2 separate regions of the Homo sapiens genome follow, and region 2 is linked to region 1. The links come from fine-mapping of genetic effects on gene expression. A gene starts in region 1. The other region holds a variant in brackets. All regions are shown on one strand. Distances are between the middles of the regions.

Region 1 (9,011 bases):
CATTTCTTTTGTATTACTCCTCTAGAATACATAGCTACTTGAAATCATAAAATTCTTCCTTGAAGAAATCATTTAATACTGCACCTTCATTTTTATAGTAAGGAAAAAAAAAACTAATTCAAGGACATGTAATTATTTAGTGGAAAGCGAAGAACCAGAATTCAGGCCACAATTTATAATCTAATGTTGTCTGACACTCAAGTGCTTGTTAAATCAACTGTAAGGTAAAAAAATCACTTTGTAAGCCTGTCTCCAGCAACATTACTCTGCATTAAAAGACAATCCATGCCTCATCAAAACAGAGATTGTCTATTTCACTGTATTTTCCACCAGTCAAGAAGACAATGAATGAGGTTCTTCGATAATAATTTGACAATTCATTTTTAAACCTCAAATTTTTACACAAGTTCAGTAAACCTGAAATTCCATTTTTCTGCTCAGTCCTTGAAATATTCATATATATAATGACCTCATTGTGTTTAGAAAAAAAATTTACTTTAAAAATAAGATCAGGGTAACCCATGATTAAAGTATGAAGCAATTTGAAATTTTAGTAGTAAATCAGAAGTCTAGATAAAGACAGTAACATTATTAAAAATACCTTCATTCTTCAATCTCATATTCTCTCCAGAAGCCAAGAAGGTTTAGCATTCAGCATATTTATATCATATGTCATTTGCTATACATTAATGTAGTAAATACATTTAATTTATTTTGCCTCATAATTTGTTATGTATTATTAAAGGATTAAGATTTTTCACTAATCCTTGTCTACAAACATTAGCTATCAGATATATCTTTCTTCTTTGATTTTTTGGTTTTAACCCAGAGTAGATAAATCAATTTAGTAAAGTCTTCTAACATTTAGGAAGATATTCATCAGTCAAATTACATACACATTTGGAATTGTAATAGCCTAATCTTACTTCTGAAAACATCGCCTACTTTTCAATCTGCAAGGAAAATACTTTATCTAGAAGTCTATTTTCTGCTCTAATGATATCTTTTAGGATAACTGTGTTACAGACTACAAGAGTCTAATACAAGAAGAGAATAAAGGATCAAAAGAAACCAATTACAATAGGAAAATATACAAAAGATCCAAGTCAAAATATACACACTTGTAGTAAATCTGCACGTTAACCAAATGTGGAGATTCGGAATTTAGGTGTCCAGTTTCAAAAATAACAAAGAAAGAGACACTAACATATACCTGAAAGCACATATATGGAAAATGAGATAAAATAAAAAGGGCTTAGTCATTTTCTATAAATCAGAACCATAATAAATAAAGCTCATAAGCTCATCTGCTACTTAAACCCAACAGAAGGAATGACTAGGTGGTATTACTGGCAAGCAAGCCAATTTAGCACTCTGGAATGTCCATAGAAATCTCATAAAAAGGCAAAGTAGAAGGTAATTTAGTAAACAGTTTTCCATACTTCATTCTTAGTAAGGAGGTTCTAAAAAAAAACTTTAGAGTATAATTGCAAACTATAATTACAGGTTCACTTTTATTCACATAATATTTAACTATAGAAAGTACACCAAAAGTTATATACAAGTGACAATTTTGGCCACCTGATCCTTGATTTTAATTGGCAATTCACACTAGGCCTAACGCTTTACACCTTTTGTGCCAACTTGCTAATTACACAAATGCATTAGGGTAAAAGTGTTGTCTAAGAATCTGGTTTTATAAAATCAGCCTTGCTGGTGGTACTCACTTATAATTATACTAAATTATAAAAGGGCCAGATTGGATGTTACAAGGAAAAGAGGTTATTTACCAAAAGAATGTCGAGACCACACTGGGAAAACAATAAAACCTAAACTCATTTTACAGAAAAGCAAAATAAGGGAAAAATAGCTGATTTAATTCAACTTTACTTTCCTTCTTCTAGTCCAGTTATGAAATTATCTTGTTGGGAAAAAAAAGAAACTGCTTTCAGTTCCAAAGAATGCATCTAGATCCAACGCTGTACTAGTCTCGTCACTACAGAGTTTTGCTGAACACTCAGGGCCCACACTGACAAAATAACTTCATTCCCGTCTTCACACAACCCTAAACTAGATGGTCTTGATCACTGAGTTCAGGAATAAAAATATCTAACAATTGAAGCCAAAAAACATTCTGGTCATAACTATCTAGATATTTGGGCAAGAGCACTTCAGACACACCGTCTCAGAAATTAACAGATTCAGATCTAGCCTGGTCAGATTTTGTCGTTTATAAAGGTATGACTGCGTAGTATTTACTATGTATAGTAGACTTCACTTAGTAACACAGTTCAATAGTCCATCCTAAAACTTCTATTAGCATTTTGAAGATAGCACATTAAGTGACAAATAAAACTTGAGGCATTATCTATCTATCTATCTATACATATATATATATTTGTATGTATCACATAGTACTTCTTTGAAATAATGACTTTAAAATGTAAGTAAAATGCCTGGCACATGTTTAACTCAAATGCAGGTTCCCTCACTCCTTCTCAGGAACCAGAAAAATCTAAAATATAAAGGGGTAAAGCTCCTCCCCTATCGTATATTTCTTTTCTTTTTTTTGACAATAGTAATGTCTACTGAAATCATCTAGTGATTTTTTTTTTCTATTTATCACCAACACATTACTCATTAATATGCAGGAGGTAGATATCCCACAGATAGATGAATCCAAATCTTAAGTTTAAGAATATATTTAGGTTAAGTATGTTTCAAAGTCACAGTAAAAGAAAACACATTTCAACATAAAAATAGAAAGTGAGTCGTCTGTACTGTTCTCACTAAAAAATTATCTTGAAAAAAATCTTTTGAAGTATTTAAAAAAATGCTTGATAAAACTAATATAGTTCATACACAACCAGGAAAAGTAATTCTATACTACTAGTTTAATGTATAGTAACCTAACAGTTTTTACAAATACATAACAAATGTAGACTATGAGAGAAAAAGTATATCAAGAGAAAAAATTTATCCCCATGCATTTTTCAAGAAAACGCTCTAAAAACTGGTAGAAATATTAACCATTTATAACTATTCATAGAAAATTAATTTGCTACACTTCTGCTAATTGTTTTTCTACACGGACATGCCAAAAACAACCAAATTCAGATTGAAATCCAATCTCTAATTTATTAGAATAGGTCATAAGTTCAATATCTACCATGCATAATATTTTTAAAAGTAATTGTCTTTAAACCTCATCCTTAACATACCTCATTCATCACACCAATAGTATAGAAGCAGATATATTTTTCCTTAGAAACTTCTATCTCCTTACAAATAAAATAGTTATCATAAAAAAACTTTAGACCTCTATTTGGATATATGTTTAGCTACTATAAACTAGGAGCTGAGAAACATCACAGCAGTATATAAGCTGAATTATAATCAAGGGAAAAGCCAACACATGATTTCTCATAGTATATATCTAATCACACCAACAGGAAAATAAAAACTTTCTTTGGAACTAATCAGCAACACAGAAGGACTGGGGAGAACAAAGTAGAAGTTAAAAAATAAAATTAAAGAAAGGATACAGCCTTAAAGCACCAGTCTGAGTTCCCACTGCCAGGATCTTCTGTACAGGATCAAAGGCCAGGGCTGAGGGTTGATAGGGAAATCCATGGCGAACAGTCTAGGGATGGGCAAGTGACATCACAGCAACCAAGGCAGCAAGCGAAATTTTAAAATAGAAAGTCAATAGAGGCGTTAGAATTTAGAACCACTACCACTGATGCAAAACACATACACATGCACTTACTGCTTTTGAAAAAATAAGTGAAACCTACATTAACAAAGTTATTCACATAGAACCTGAAACAAACAAAAATCTAGTCCAGTGATATACTTTAATTTCGCTTTTCCATAATACTGGTATTCCATAGAAGAAAATCTTTTATTAATATTCTATACTACTACATCCGACACCAGATGACTAAAGTTTGCAATGGTCCAAAATTCTGTAAACCCATTAAATGCAATTCATACTTTATTTTGGCAGTATTCATTTCATCATTACTTTATTTGGATGCTAACGCAAGTACTTCTAAGGAAAAGCTGTCATATAATTACTTTAGTCAAGCATTCAGTAGAGCAATAATCAAACCTCTATCCCAACATTTTACACTTGTAACAGAATGAAGATGAGTACAACATACATTTTTGCAATTTACTATTAAGGCCATAATCATTTTAGGGCATTAGACCTATATATATATATATATATATATATATGCACACTTTTAATTAACTCTGACATACAAATACATGGCTATTTATGAGAAAGGCAGGTATTAAAACCGAGGCAAGTTTGTGTTTCTCATTAAGCAGCTGGTGACTTAATTCGCTGCATCATTCTTTCTGAATTACAGAACGCTATGGCAATTATCGTGCCATTAACAGGCAAAAATCTCAGTACTTTTTAACAAACATAATGATAAAAAGAACCCTGTGATTTCATATCGTAAGCCACTTACACCACATTTTAAGGGAAAAGTGATGAGCAAAGGTGTGGTAGAACAGGTTTGGCTTTTTGATAAACAACATTCATTAGACACCGTTTCCAAAGGAAACTTCGAAGTTGGTGAATCATATTAAAACGCTTGAATATAAAAGCTTCCAGGTTATTACTGGCAGTGTCAGAATACGATTAAAGGTCGGATAATAGTTTGAAGCAACCTTGAACTGATTGCTGCATGTGCAAAGGGGAGAGAGAAAAATCAATGAAAAGGAGTAAGGTATCAATCTCCAAAACAACCCACCGAAGAAACGTTTGCCAAGGGAGGAGCGAGCCTTTTATTAGAGTTATTATTATTATTATTGGCGTTCTCTTCCCTTGCATTCCCATGTAAAGCCCGAGTAGCCCCCTTAAAACAACCCCAATTTTTCAATGACGGTGTCGCGGGGCTGCGCGCTCCGTTCACCTTGCAGAGCTGAAAGTGCTCGGACTGGAGCGTTTCCTGGATCTCCGGCTCCCGGTTCCCAGGCGGATGCTGCTGCTGTTGCTGCTGCGACGCCGAGGACGAGCCGGCGGTCAGGCCGTCCAGCACCTTCCTGATGTTGAATTTCCTCATGGTCTCGGAGGGGCTCCCCCGCAGCCCGGGAGGGGAGGCACAGGGGGTCCCCGGGCGGGGGAGACCACCCGGGGCCGAAGGCAGCTTCGACCGCGGAAACGGAGGAGTGGGAGTGTGAGGGTAAGGAGGCAGCTGGGGGGAAGCAAAAGATAATCCGAACAGGAAATACTGCGACGACAAGAGCGGCGGCCGCAAGAAACCTGGGCGGCGACCCCTCTTCCTCCGAGGCCGCCGCTGCTTGGCGCGGCTGCTGTGGTGCCGATTCAGCCGCCGCCGCCGCCGCCTCGCTCCGCGGCCCGGCAGCAGCAGCAGCAGCAGTGGCGGCGGCGCCCGAGCCCGCTCAGCCCAGCCTCACCTGGCCGCGGGCGGACTCTGCGCCGCGCCGCCGCCCCGGCTCGCCCCCGGCGCCGCCACCGTCGCCGCTGCGTCCATGGCCCGCGGCCGCGCCGCTGCTCGCCCGCCCCGGCCCCGCAGTCCCTCGGCGCGTCCTCCGGCTCCTTCTCCTCCTGCCGGGGGTCGCCGGCTCTCTGTCCGCGGCCGCCGCTCGGCCTCGCACACAAGGCGCCTGGTGTGGGTCCCCGCGCCGCCTGCCTCGCCCCGCCTCGCTCCTCCGCCGCTGGACCGGCCCGCCCTCGCCGCTCCCGAGCCCGGCTGCGTTCCTCAGGCGCCGCCGCGGCCGTCGGCTCTCCCCGCCCAGCCGCTCCCCATCGCCTGACAGGGCGCCTCGGCACACGGCACCAACGCCCGCCCGGAGCAGCAGCGGCAGCCGCGGTTACAGCGCGGGCCGCGGCGGTGGCGGCAGCAGGGCCTCCCAGGAGCCGGGCTGCGGTACCTGCGCATGCGCGCCGCAGCCCGGTTCCCCCACCCTGGCCCAGCAGGCCCCCAGCCCCCCAGCCCGAGCGAAGCTGGGGCTTAAATTATCTTCTGCGAAAATCCCAGACGCTGGCTAAATTTCTCCCACCCCAGTCGAGTTGCCAGAGTATGCAGCTGCTTCTCTTGCAGCTGGCATAGTAAAAATGTTGACGACTAACAAGCAGCAGGAAACCTTTCTTTCCAATTCAGTCATTACAGCAGGGGTTGATGCTTTCTCGCCGTTAATGGGGTGCACGCTCCTGGCCGCTGGCTGCAGTATTATTTTTCTTGCTTTATTGACGGGCGTTGTTTTTGTTTGATTGGATTTGAGTTTTGAAAAAGAGCGTCTAGACAACGATATGTCAGTGGCAGGAGGATGATGGACTTAGGTACTAGGAAAAGGAGAGAAACCTAGACGGGAAAAAACGGGTTCTTTCCTACAGCTGTTACTGTTGGTGGAACGTGTCTGGTCTTAGCAGTTAGCTGCTGGGATGGAAGAGGCTGCCAGCGGGGAACGGTTCCAGGGCCGGTGTCAGCCCGGGCCGATGACACTACCCCGCACCCAGCCCCTCGCCGGGGAGGAGCGCGGGTGGCAGGAAACGCCGCGCTGCCACTATTTTTCAGAACCTTCAATCTGCCCTGACGCTGATGAGCCACTCAGTAATGCCCTGGGAGCTTCACTCTAGAACGGGGAAAGGGGGATAGGATGAAGTTTTTGCTCAGATCTTTCCGAGGCCGCACTGCCCATCTCGCGTGAATGCTTGGAGACAAATGCCTGGCTCAAGTTGGAAAAGACAGACAAGAGATTGTGCCGGGGAAACCCCCCGGAGAGTGCGTTCAACAGGACAGGTGGACGGAAGCACAGGTACTTGATTAGGAAGGATGTGGAAATAGGAAAGACGTAAGGAAGGAAGGAAGTGCAGGAAGACTAATCCTAATTCGGGGAGAGGGGGACAGGTTCCTAGCGAATGACTCCTCGCGCGCTCTGGTCTGCGGAAAAGCCACGGAACCGCCACAAAGGGTTTTTTTAAGTTCCAAACCTGTCAGAAGCACCCGCCCTCTTCTTTGTGAGGTCGGCTCCCTCTCCTTTAGGGAAATTCTCGTCACCCTATTGGTTGAGTTAACCAGCATTCAAAAGCAGTCAGCGAACCAACTACGACTGGGCCCAGGGATTTCGGGAAATGTAGTCCACTCTGCAGCTTCCGCATCCCAGGACGATGTCTTGCATTTGGAACCTACAAAATTTTGATTTGTCGTTTAATATTTATTGAATTAGTTGATTCGCTGGGTGCAACGACCAAGAAAACAAATGTGAGGACATTCCTAAACTATTTCCAAGTGGCTCTGAATTTTTTATTAATTTAGTTCTCTAACATTTTGTTGTCAGGCGGTGTGCTAGGTACTAAAGACACGAAAATGCAATCCTTGCTTTCAGCAAGCTCACTACGGTCTAACGGAGACGACTTTTAACATAAATAGTAATTGTAAAACGATGTGATGAGTCCAATGATGGAATAATGAAGGAGGACGGCAGAGGGCCACTTAACTGGCCAGGAAGGCTTGGACATGGTGACGCCCACCATAGATCATGCCGGATAAGGAGGAGCAGACCTAGCGAACAGGAGGCAAAGACCATTGGAAGACAATGGGGAAGAGAGCCTCAGAATTACCTTGAGAGCTTTTTAAAAGTACATGTGATTCCACAGGGGGAAATTGCAAAACAGACAGATCACAACCCCATAGAATTGTATGATCTGCCTTTTTACTTACCTAGGTCTAAAATAAATCTATTGGATAATTTTTCATCATTGGATTATAAAACTTTCTAGAAAAAAAAGACAACTTCTTGTTGAGAGGCTTTGTGGTGTAGTGGGAAAATATAGGCTTTGTTGTCAGCCAGCCATGAACTTCAGTCCAGGCCATGGTAATATGTGTAATCTTGGGCAAATTTTAAATTTTTCTAGGGATCAGATTCCTCAGGTTTAAAATGAGATTAATACCACCTTCTTAGAAATTTATGAGCATGAACTGGAGGGGGAAAAGAAAGAATATGAAAAGTTTGTACTGCATTGCTTAGTACTCTGTAGACACTCAAAAATGTCAGTTTCCTATTCTATCAGGGTCCTTGAGGTAAAGGGGACTTCAAAGAGTCACCAATTTAAGCCAGTTTCCTACTTCTGACTCTAGAATGTTTGTTTTTATTTCTATACTCTATCTTTTCCATCAGGTTATGAACTCATTCTGACATTCTCAAAATTTCAGTTCTTAGTGAATACCTGGAATTTAAGATGGATATAGCCTACCTTTGTGAACTTGCAGTCCATCCTCTGTGCTCAGAGACACGGGGACTTATCCGAAAATCCAAATGGCCAAAACCAACAATGGCCCAAAATAACGACCTTTATTATAGCAAAGGTAAAATAATCGATCCTCAAACTCACAGTAATTCTTATAAGTCAGTTAGAATTAATCAATTTGTTTTTTCAAATTAGAACTGAAATTTTGAGAATTTTATTTGGAATTAAACATTTTAAGTTTAGAATTAAATACATTAAACTAAATAATCTATATTATTCATTTTTAAATTGAGCACAAAACAGAGAATTTTACCCATCATAATTTCTCAGAAAAGTTGTGTTTATTTGTTTTATTTGAATGAATGAGTAAGTATGTTGATTTCAAGCAATTCAATAGCTTCTGCCTTTAGGTGACATTCTCCTGAATGAAATTATTTCTTACCTGTTTGAAGAATGGACCATAAGGTGATGATGTAATAGTATACTACTGACAAATTATAAATATATATCTTACATTTAGCTGAGTCAAGGTGGCACTAAAAAATATTCTGCCAACACAATGAAAATAATAAGACAACTTTTTAAGAAAACGAAACTACACATACACTAAAAGAATGTTAGCATATGAAATTGACAGGTGCAGAAGACTAAAGACCAAGAATTCATAACATTTCTGAATCTATCAGTCCTCATTATCCAGTTTAAAGGTTACCAGACTAATGCAGGACCTGGTACAGATCGCAAAGGTAAGCTGGATGCTGATTGAGATGGAGAAGGCAGA
Region 2 (9,011 bases), 340 kb after region 1:
ATAATAAAAATAACCAACTTACATTTTTACTATGTGCTGGGTAAAATATATATGCATCAGATCAAATGGACAAAGCATAGATAAGTGCTAGGTAAAATATATGCATATTATATATATATATGCAAATATAAATATTTATATCAAATGGATGCTAGAGAATGTGTTGTAAGGTAGGCAAGGGATTAAGCCACAAAGTAAGCTGTGGTAAAAAAAAAAAAGGATTTCAAAGTCTTCTGTGATGTCAGAACTCCCTACCAGGAATAAAGAGTTTTCTGGAACGGGGGTGACCTTCTGGCTGTGGCACCTGGTGGCTGGTCTGGGATTAAGTAGTTCACAACCATCCTCTGAGGGAGGTAGTGAGCGCATTGTTATGTCCACTTTGCAGGTGATCAGAATGAGGCACAGGAGTTGTGAGTGATGAAACCGGGGTGTTTAGTCCATTTCAGAGCTGGAATTAGTATACAAATCGTGCTTGGCTGACTTCCAGTGCTGTTCCATTCTCATATCCAGGTTCTTACCCTGTGGCTCTGCAATACCTCATGTTGTTGATTTTAGAATGAAACAGACAAAACTTTTATGTCCAAAGATCACTGTAACAGGTTAGAGTAAGTGGCAGCAAGCCCAGTATGCTTCAGCTACTTGAACTGCATGTAAATTGCAGAATTGATAGGGGTTGAGGTTGTCTAATATTTACTTGCAAGGAGTAATAGGGTTTGCTTTAAAGGACTTGGAAGAATCCAAGAATCTGAGTGTTCATAATTCATCAGATGTATAATTCTAAAAGTGGGAGAAGATTTGAGACCATCTTATTTCTTTATTTTACTAGCGAGGAAACCAAAACTCAAAGAGATTAGATGAATGGCCAAAGCAATACAGAGAGTGAATGGGGCAGGCCCATGTCTCTTTACCCTTGGGCCAGTGGAGCCTACAGGCCTCGGCAATTGGTCTTCTAGAAGAAGCATTCAAAGTCGCAACAGATGAGATGGGAACTGGAAGGGTGGGTTGAGCACGACCCTCTGTGTGCAGAGGGGAAGCTGGTTCTATAAACGAACTCCAGAACATTTGCTAGAATAGGGATACAAATATAAAATCATAAAGCGTCCTACCTCTCCTCTGAGATACTGCCTCTAATTTTATAAAATTCCTCTCTCAGTGAGGAAGTAGAAAATGGCAAATAGCCTTCAGTGTGCTTGATTTTTCAACCCAGCATGATAGAGACATCAACAAAATTTATTAGGTTTAAATGGGATTGACTAGATTAAGTTCTCTACCTAAGAAAAATTGGGGGTTCTGTGTCATATGTTAAAATTTGGCTTCAGGAAGAATGAGATCACGTCCTTTACAGGAGCATGGATGGAGCTGAAGGCCATCATCCTTAGCAAACTAATGCAGGAACAGAAAACCAAATATTGCATGTTCTCATTTATAAGTGGGAGCTAAATGGTGAGAACTCACAGGGACACAAAGAAGGGAACAACAGACACTGGGACCTACTTGAGGGTGAGGGATGGGCGGAGGGAGAGGAGCAGAAAAAAATAACTGTTGGGTACTGGGTTTAGTATCTGGGTGAAAAAATAATCTGTGCAACAAACGCCTGTGACACAAGTTTACCTATATAACAAACCTGCACATGCACCCCTGAACCTAACATAACATTTAAAAAATAAATAAAATTTGCTTTCAGAAAGTAAGATTATGGCTCAGGAACACCTGAGAATATGATAGTAAAAGTTCATACTTGTAAAATGTAGGGAATAAAAAGGATTCTGAGGCTAAAGAAAAGCTTTAAAAACTTCTGATCTACTAAACTGGTAAGTTAGAAAATTCCTAGTCTACTCTTAATGGAGAAAATAAATGATTTTTCTCAGATTACAACACAATAACAGAGACTAGAGCAAAGACATGATCCAGAGATATTTCCACCCTTCACTTTAAGAAATCTGTGCAAAGCAAAAGAATGGCAGGTGTCACTGGGCATTGAGTGGAGTAGGATCCTTTCCAAGTGTGCTGTCTTCTATGATGAGGTTTCTTGGAGTGGGGATTCTTGATTCTGCATAGGGTGACCCAAAGCTTGGTGATACCTAGGTAGGTTGAAGAGACACTCAACTGTTCTGGGAAAAGAATAGACCAGGGCCTTCTGCTACTTGAAGGCTTCCCTCTCTGTGCCCTAAAAAATAAATAAATAAATAAATAAATTAATTAATTAATTAAATAAATAAATGGTGTGGAATCCTTGGGGCTTCAGGGAAGCAAGGAACCGAGGACTGAACTTTGTGTTTGAAGTTAGGATAGTTTGTATCTGGATGACTTAAAGATCCGTTGGCAAGAATGGAAACCAAGTCTTCCAAAGAGAAACCTACAAGAAGGAATGTGGTCAATTGCCCGGGTGACTTTGGTGCAACCAAAAGCCTTTGAGTGTTAGCCAGGGAGGGCTGGTTCAGATTCTGCAGATCCAGTTTCTAGCAGTAGAGCCTGGTGTCAGCATCAGTAACTAGTACACTGACCAGACTTTCCAGTTTTTTCTCTCTTCAACCGGCTGCCTAGTGTTCTTGTACAGAATGAACCCTTTGGAATGAATAAGTCCATAGTGTTCTTGGACAAGGCAGTAGGAGGGAACCTGAATAGGTTATACTGGATATTTTTCTAAAAACCAAACTGTGGGAACTGAAAAATTAATTGAGAGGGGAGGCATACAAGAGAAAGAGATGTGATTTTATTTAACTACAAGCTGAAAAACGTGACCCATCCTGGCTACCTATGAATATCATTAGTTCGATTAATCTGTGGATATATTATGAGATTCTCTAATTCAACATTTGGAAGTGCTTATGGACTTGAAACGTGTTGGTCAATGCTGCGCTGAAATGGGCAGCCTGGGAAGAATACTATGGGAGAAATGCGAGGATCTCTGTGACTCTCCAGGGAGCAGCCTCTGGAGGGGAACTCTTCTTGCTCCTTTTCTACAGATATCGGCATATTTTAGAGGAGTCTGTTTTCAAACAAAAATGGCAGAAAGGACCCCTTTGTAACATGAGCATTTCTTTTAGGCAAATAAGCCTCCCTGTGACCTAGGTGTTAAGAGCTGCCTTTATGATGATTTTCCCTGGACTTCACAAATGACACCCCTTTTGAGTGGTTCAGTTTGAGTGTTAACAGAAACCTATGTGTGAGTAACACGTATCCACAAATATGTTGTCTAGTTGGAAGATAAATATATGCAAGGTCATTAAGGTCACAGGGGAAATGTAATAAAAGTCCAATTATTTTGGCAAATATGTTACATCTAAATATGCATTTGCTTTTGATACTCTACAGTTTAGGCCCCATAAAGATGATTTAGGGTGTCGTCTCTTCCTTGGCTAATTTATGAGCCCAGAGAATATGCGTCTACTCTGACCTCACCTGCTAACTTGCTAAGTGGCTTTTCTATTCCCAGAAGTTCATAGCTGTGTGCAGAACAGCCTTTGTGACTTAGAGGTAGATAAACAAGTTGGTTTTCTTCACTCCCATATTAAGCTTCTGCTCAGCACTTTCTAGAGGCGCTGCCTAAAAGTCTAAGATAAATAAAGATGTAACTGATAGGTTTTCTCTGTTCTTTCTAAAATAATCACCTTTTTGGCGACTGTATTTGTTAATAACTTAGAACCACTCAATAGGTTAAGTGAGTGTGTGGGGGTAAATGAAATCTCATTCATGGAAATAAACTTGAAACATTGAAATATTAAATTGATGATGCATGTGGCTAGACAAAAACACTTTGTAAACCAGCTACAGTTTTGAGCTTCTCATGGAATAGATCCATTTCATTTTAACTGTGCTGTTCATGCCAATGGCTGTTAGCTGGGTTTCTGACAGATGTCAGCAATGCAACGAAATCCAAATGCCTGAATGATCCTTCCTCCTGGATGTGATGCAAACTGTATCAAGTTTCTGATGCCCAGACCAGAGCACTTATGAGTCTCCAAACACAGTTCTTCTATGCTCTCCATGACCTGTCCTGTGTCATTTCGTTTAACACATAGATTTATATTCAGAAAATATAGCTATATATGCTGTGACTCCTTAGAAGACCTGATGACCCTTACAACCTAAACAGGCACTAAACACTGCTATGTTGTAGAGTGCAGGATCTGCAGTGACAGGCAAGTCCCAGGTTACCTTTTGTGACATAAATTTTGACCTTTGTCCCATATATTGGCTATGCCTCATGCTAAATTTGGGGCTCTGACGGTCAGCTCCATCCCCTGGTCAGCCTCAGGACCATGTCACAGGATGATGTAGCCAAGACATACGTGAGGACCACCAGTTATCATACTGTTGGCTCTGCACACTCATGCTACACCATTGAAATAAAACACAGAAATTCATCCCCTCTTCCTAGGAGCTGAACTTCTGCAGCTGGCAGAGACTCCCTGCATGTTTTCTGAGAAGAGCTCAGGGACATAAGAATTCATTCTGTGGAGCATAACCAGGCTTTTAGCCTCCATCCCACACACAGCTACACATGCTGTAGTAGGGGAGAGGCCAAGGACGTTGTCTGGAAAGGTGTAAGGCCAACCACAGAGTCCCCGGGCCGCGTCCTGGACCCACGCTAATCATTCCACCCCCAAGTAATTGTGGGATAATGTGTTCCCTTCTTCATAGGCAAAGCAGGTTATGGAAATTATTTTATGAAAAGTACCTGGGAGTGTTGCCAAGCTAATTTTTGGTTCATTATACCATCTATTATTAATACATTATCACATAATGATTGTATGGTCTGATCTTTCCCTCATACATACTATGGTGGTTTTTCCGTTTGTGTGTGTGCAGTGTAACTGGATCTTGGTTCATGCTGAGCTTAAAATTTGATCTTCTGAATATCAGCAGAAAGACTCTTTCTGGTGAATACAGATCTTCTGAGCAATTATCGACTGACTTTGTCATTAGACTGCCCTTTCAGAAGGTACAAAAAAAGAAAAAGAAAATTACTA[C/T]TGTGAAGTGAAGTCTGAGCAACTGGGAAGAAATGCAAGGTGAAATGAAATGGTGAAGGTAAATGAACGGGAAGAACCTGGGGAGATGGTAACCACGTTAATCATAGTAAACTGGGATGAAAAGACAGAGAATAACACAATATAGAGACTTTTTTAATTATTAGAGGAAAAGATAGGTCCAATAGCATGACTAGAGGCTTTGAAAAGTAAAGACAGCTCAAAAGGAACAAAATTCTCAAAGCATTGTAATTGTACAATCCTAGCTCACCTTCATGAGAGGAAAGTTTAAGAAACAGGCAGCAGGAGGGGGCTTGCTGTCTATTTTTAGAAAGATTTTGGCCAAAAAAGGAAGTGTTAGCACAAAAAGAAGAGTCAATTTTTACAGACACATGAGGGGTAGTGTTTTCCAAAAAGACCGAAACGTGGCACAATTGTATTCACCTTTGTAACTCCAGCACCCACTATAAGGGCAAGGCCCCCCAAATGTCTTCCATTGATTTTGTCATTTGGAGAATTTGCTCCCAGGTTCATATGAGAAGGTACGGCTGACATTGTATGGTATGTGGGATTTGCTTCAAAACAATCCAGGGAGGAGAAAGCAGGGGTGAGGGTAATGACGAAATAAGATTGACTGGCCGGCTGCAGTGGCTCACGCCTGTAATCCCAGCACTCTGGGAGGCCAAGGCGGCCGGATCACGAGGTCCGGAGATCGAGACCATCCTGGCTAACACCGTGAAACCCCGTCTCTACTGAAAAATAGAAAAAATTAGCCAGGCGTAGTGGCGGGCGCCTGTAGTCCCAGCTACTCGGGAGGCTGAGGCAGGAGAATGGCGTGAACCCAGGTGGCGGAGCTTGCAGTGAGCCGAGATGGCGCCACTGCACTCCAGCACTCCAGCCTGGGCAACAGAGCGAGACTCCGTCTCAAAAAAAAAAAGACTGACCACAATTTGATATATTTACACCTGGGTGACAAATACTAAGGCATTCATTACTATATTATATCTACTCTTGTATGTTTGAAATTTTCCACAATAAAAATAAAAATCAAACCATATCTCTCAATTTAAAATAAAATGTTGTGGTTTGCTAAAAAAAAAAAAAATTCCACTTGAAATATACAAATACAGATCTTTAAAAAAGAAACTCACAGGAACAGAAACAGTGAAACCCTTAGGAAAAGGCTAATTGAATTGAAACACAGGTCACACATTTGATTTGCAGTGGAGCGAAGGGGCAAATCTGGGACTCTGGAAAGTTACTCTGGTGCTCTATTTTATGGCTGACTTTCAGTCAAAGGGCATGGGTGTCAGAGGGAGCTCAGTGTTTTCTGGGTCGCTAAAGGGGAACCGATCAACCAAAGTTACACAACAGAATATGTTTACTGAAAATAACAAAAACTTTTCCTTCAGCTGGGGCTATTGAACTATACAAGGGGCTGTTCTCAAGGTTTTAGACAGACCAGGTGTGGATGAATACACTAGTAGAAGTTTGATGGCCACGTGATAGGGATGCTGCAAAGAGAATTTCTGTATCACTCGGAGGCTGGACTAAATGACCTTGAAACTCCCTTCCCACTGGATGATGCCCTAATTCTGCAATGAGATGATCCTTCCTGTTTAGGCACATAACTCATAACTCTTGCAGGAGGCATGCCATTTGTCACACATCATGAGTACCTGATTTGAAAGAAAGAAAGAAAAACACGCTTGATTTTCAAATAAAAACTTATATAGTCCTTCACCAGCTAAAACTTAAAGATTCAAATTATTAATGCTAAATAACTAGTTTTAGTAAGTTGGGCTTTAATCCGTGTGTATTGAATTCCTAGAAAGTGTAAGGTGTTTGGATAGTAAAGGAGACCAGCGCCTTTGCAAGTACTGAGTGCTTGGATGGGTTTGGTGCCTCCAGCCTCTCTCCTCCTTTCCTGGGAGCTGCCCATGACATGCTGCTCTTGAGTTGTTCTTCTTGCATGGAGAACAGCTGCAAAGGTTTGGATACCCACCTTGCAGAGCCATTTTTTAACTTAAAGCAACATGTCACCAATCCCAGTGATTTTTCTTTAAGCTTTATTTCTAACTGCAGTACAAAGATTTATTTTTCTCAAAAAAAAAAAAAAAAAAAAAAAAAAGAACTATTGTGTCAGCAAACAAATGGGCTAAGGGTTGAGGTCAGCATTCTGAAATGACACAGTACAACCAGTGCAGCTATTCTGGTGCTTCCAGAGGGAAACTAAGCACAGTTTGGTCTATATCAGGGTAGGTCAGCGGCCTCTTGGCCTCAGACTGAAGGGGCCCACTCTTCAGGACCTTAGTTAGCCTTGCAATAAATGATTGGGAAGGATATGGTGCTAGCCCTCCAAAGATCTGGAAGGGACTCCATTCTGTCCCACGATATTATTACCCTTTCTCTGTTTCTTCTCCAGTTGTCAGTGACATGAATCTTTGCTCCCTTCTTCATGGAATATTTCTGATCTAATAGCCCCTATATTTCAAAAGATGGATATAAACATCAGATGAATATCACAGGAAAGCTGGATTGCTCTGCAGTGAGTGAAACGTGGAAAGGCCTTTCCCCACCAAGCAGTAGGCCAAATTGTAACAGTAAGATGTATTTGAAATAAAATGGTTCATAGATCAGAGGTGATCCTGTCTTTTTTAAAGCGTGAAAGTGTTCCTTCTGCAGAATGAGGCTCAAAAGAGGAACATGAATAATTTGATATTTATTATGTTATGATCTGCTTTAATCCATTATATATATGAAATAGTGTGTGTGTGTGTGTATATATATATATGTATAGATGATACAGAAATATGATTCTTTAAAAGGCTACATATTTAATATGCTTTCACTCTTAGCCCAGAGCAAAGCTGGTTTCTTCCTGCAGATAAATCATCCCCAGCTCTGGAGTTCTATATAGTTGACTTTAAATAGTCACTTGGTCTCAGATTTTGCTGGATTTCCAGTGTGATAGATGAAAGGATGCTGCACTTCTTACTCAACTACATCTCCTCTTTTACATTTCAGGCCATACCTTTCCATTAATTAATGCATACTGTCGTCAGCTCAGTCTTCCATCTTCTTTAATCATTTCAGCACCTGATCCACAATTTTGCTTCCCACACCACCTCTGACAACATCCTTGTACTGGTCAAGTTTATGAGCATTCTGGCACCTTACCATTTAACACATAACACCCTGTGTTGGTAAATATATTTTTATCTCCCTGCACATCGAAGTATAACTTGGCATTTCCCATACAGAAACCATAATGATGCACTGCAAATAACTCAAGCTTCACAAATATTTGCTCTGACCCAATGTGTGGCAGGGCAATTTTAATCCCGGATTCACCATCCTTACCATTCCCACCACCTTTAATCCTCTCTAGAGTCCAGCATCTACCAAGGCTGTGCTAGTAGAAGAGGGCTTTTGAAATGTAATCAGGCTGGGAAGAAAATGCACTTTTATTTTAGGAAAATTCAGGAGAAATTGGCAGGAAGCTAATCTCAGTGCAGCATGTCTGCTTATCCCTTTTTCTCTCCTGCAGAGGCCAGTTCACTATGAGGGCTCTGCTGTCCTTGCCAGCCTTCAAGCAATCAACGGCTCTTGTCCAGCAGTGGCTCAAACTCCTGGCCATTCACCCCAGGGACAGAAGCCAGTGGAGGGAGCAGTCATTGTTATTTACTTTTCATTGGCAGGTGGTGACCAGATGGATATAAACGGGCTGTGGAAAAAGAGAATGCATGGCCAAAAATGGTGGTGCTCTCTGTCCAAAAACTGAGGCCCTATGACCATGAATGAAGCCAGAGGGCAGGTAGGAATAGGTAAGAGAAGTTATTTCCAAATCACCATCCCCCTTTAGACTTTGAATGTTTTGAGTGTTTCATTAAATAGTGTTACAAGTCCTCTAAGATTCCACATAAACGTTTAGCCAGCCAACAGTTAAGTCTGTACCTCCCAAGGCAAGTGATGAATGTTGAGATTATAATTGTGAATGGCATAATCTCAAGGTCTAGGTGAAGTACAACATTGAACGGA

The links. PIP is the estimated chance that this variant, and not a neighbour inherited with it, causes the effect.
Region 2: its variant is fine-mapped to the expression of STXBP5-AS1 in whole blood (TOPMed, PIP above 0.99).

The regions. Positions count from the first base shown.
Region 1 is chr6:147,200,603-147,209,613 of GRCh38, reverse strand. It overlaps STXBP5-AS1 (STXBP5 antisense RNA 1), which reads left to right and starts at 5,000. Exons shown (of 11, transcript NR_034115.1): 1 at 5,000-5,201. STXBP5 (syntaxin binding protein 5) reads right to left here and starts at 5,197. Exons shown (of 28, transcript NM_001127715.4): 1 at 4,932-5,197; 2 at 3,546-3,643. The coding sequence starts at 5,081. It overlaps LOC124901422 (a long non-coding RNA gene), which reads left to right and starts at 6,043. Exons shown (of 2, transcript XR_007059803.1): 1 at 6,043-6,798; 2 at 7,321-7,738. RefSeq lists silencers at 5,055-5,244, 5,415-5,494, 5,515-5,564, 5,595-6,014.
Region 2 is chr6:146,860,404-146,869,414 of GRCh38, reverse strand. It overlaps STXBP5-AS1 (STXBP5 antisense RNA 1), which reads left to right. Exons shown (of 11, transcript NR_034115.1): 8 at 8,672-8,797. Among named protein-coding and RNA genes, the nearest start is that of ADGB, 270 kb to the right of the region's middle. The variant C/T (reference allele first, on the strand shown) is at 4,974.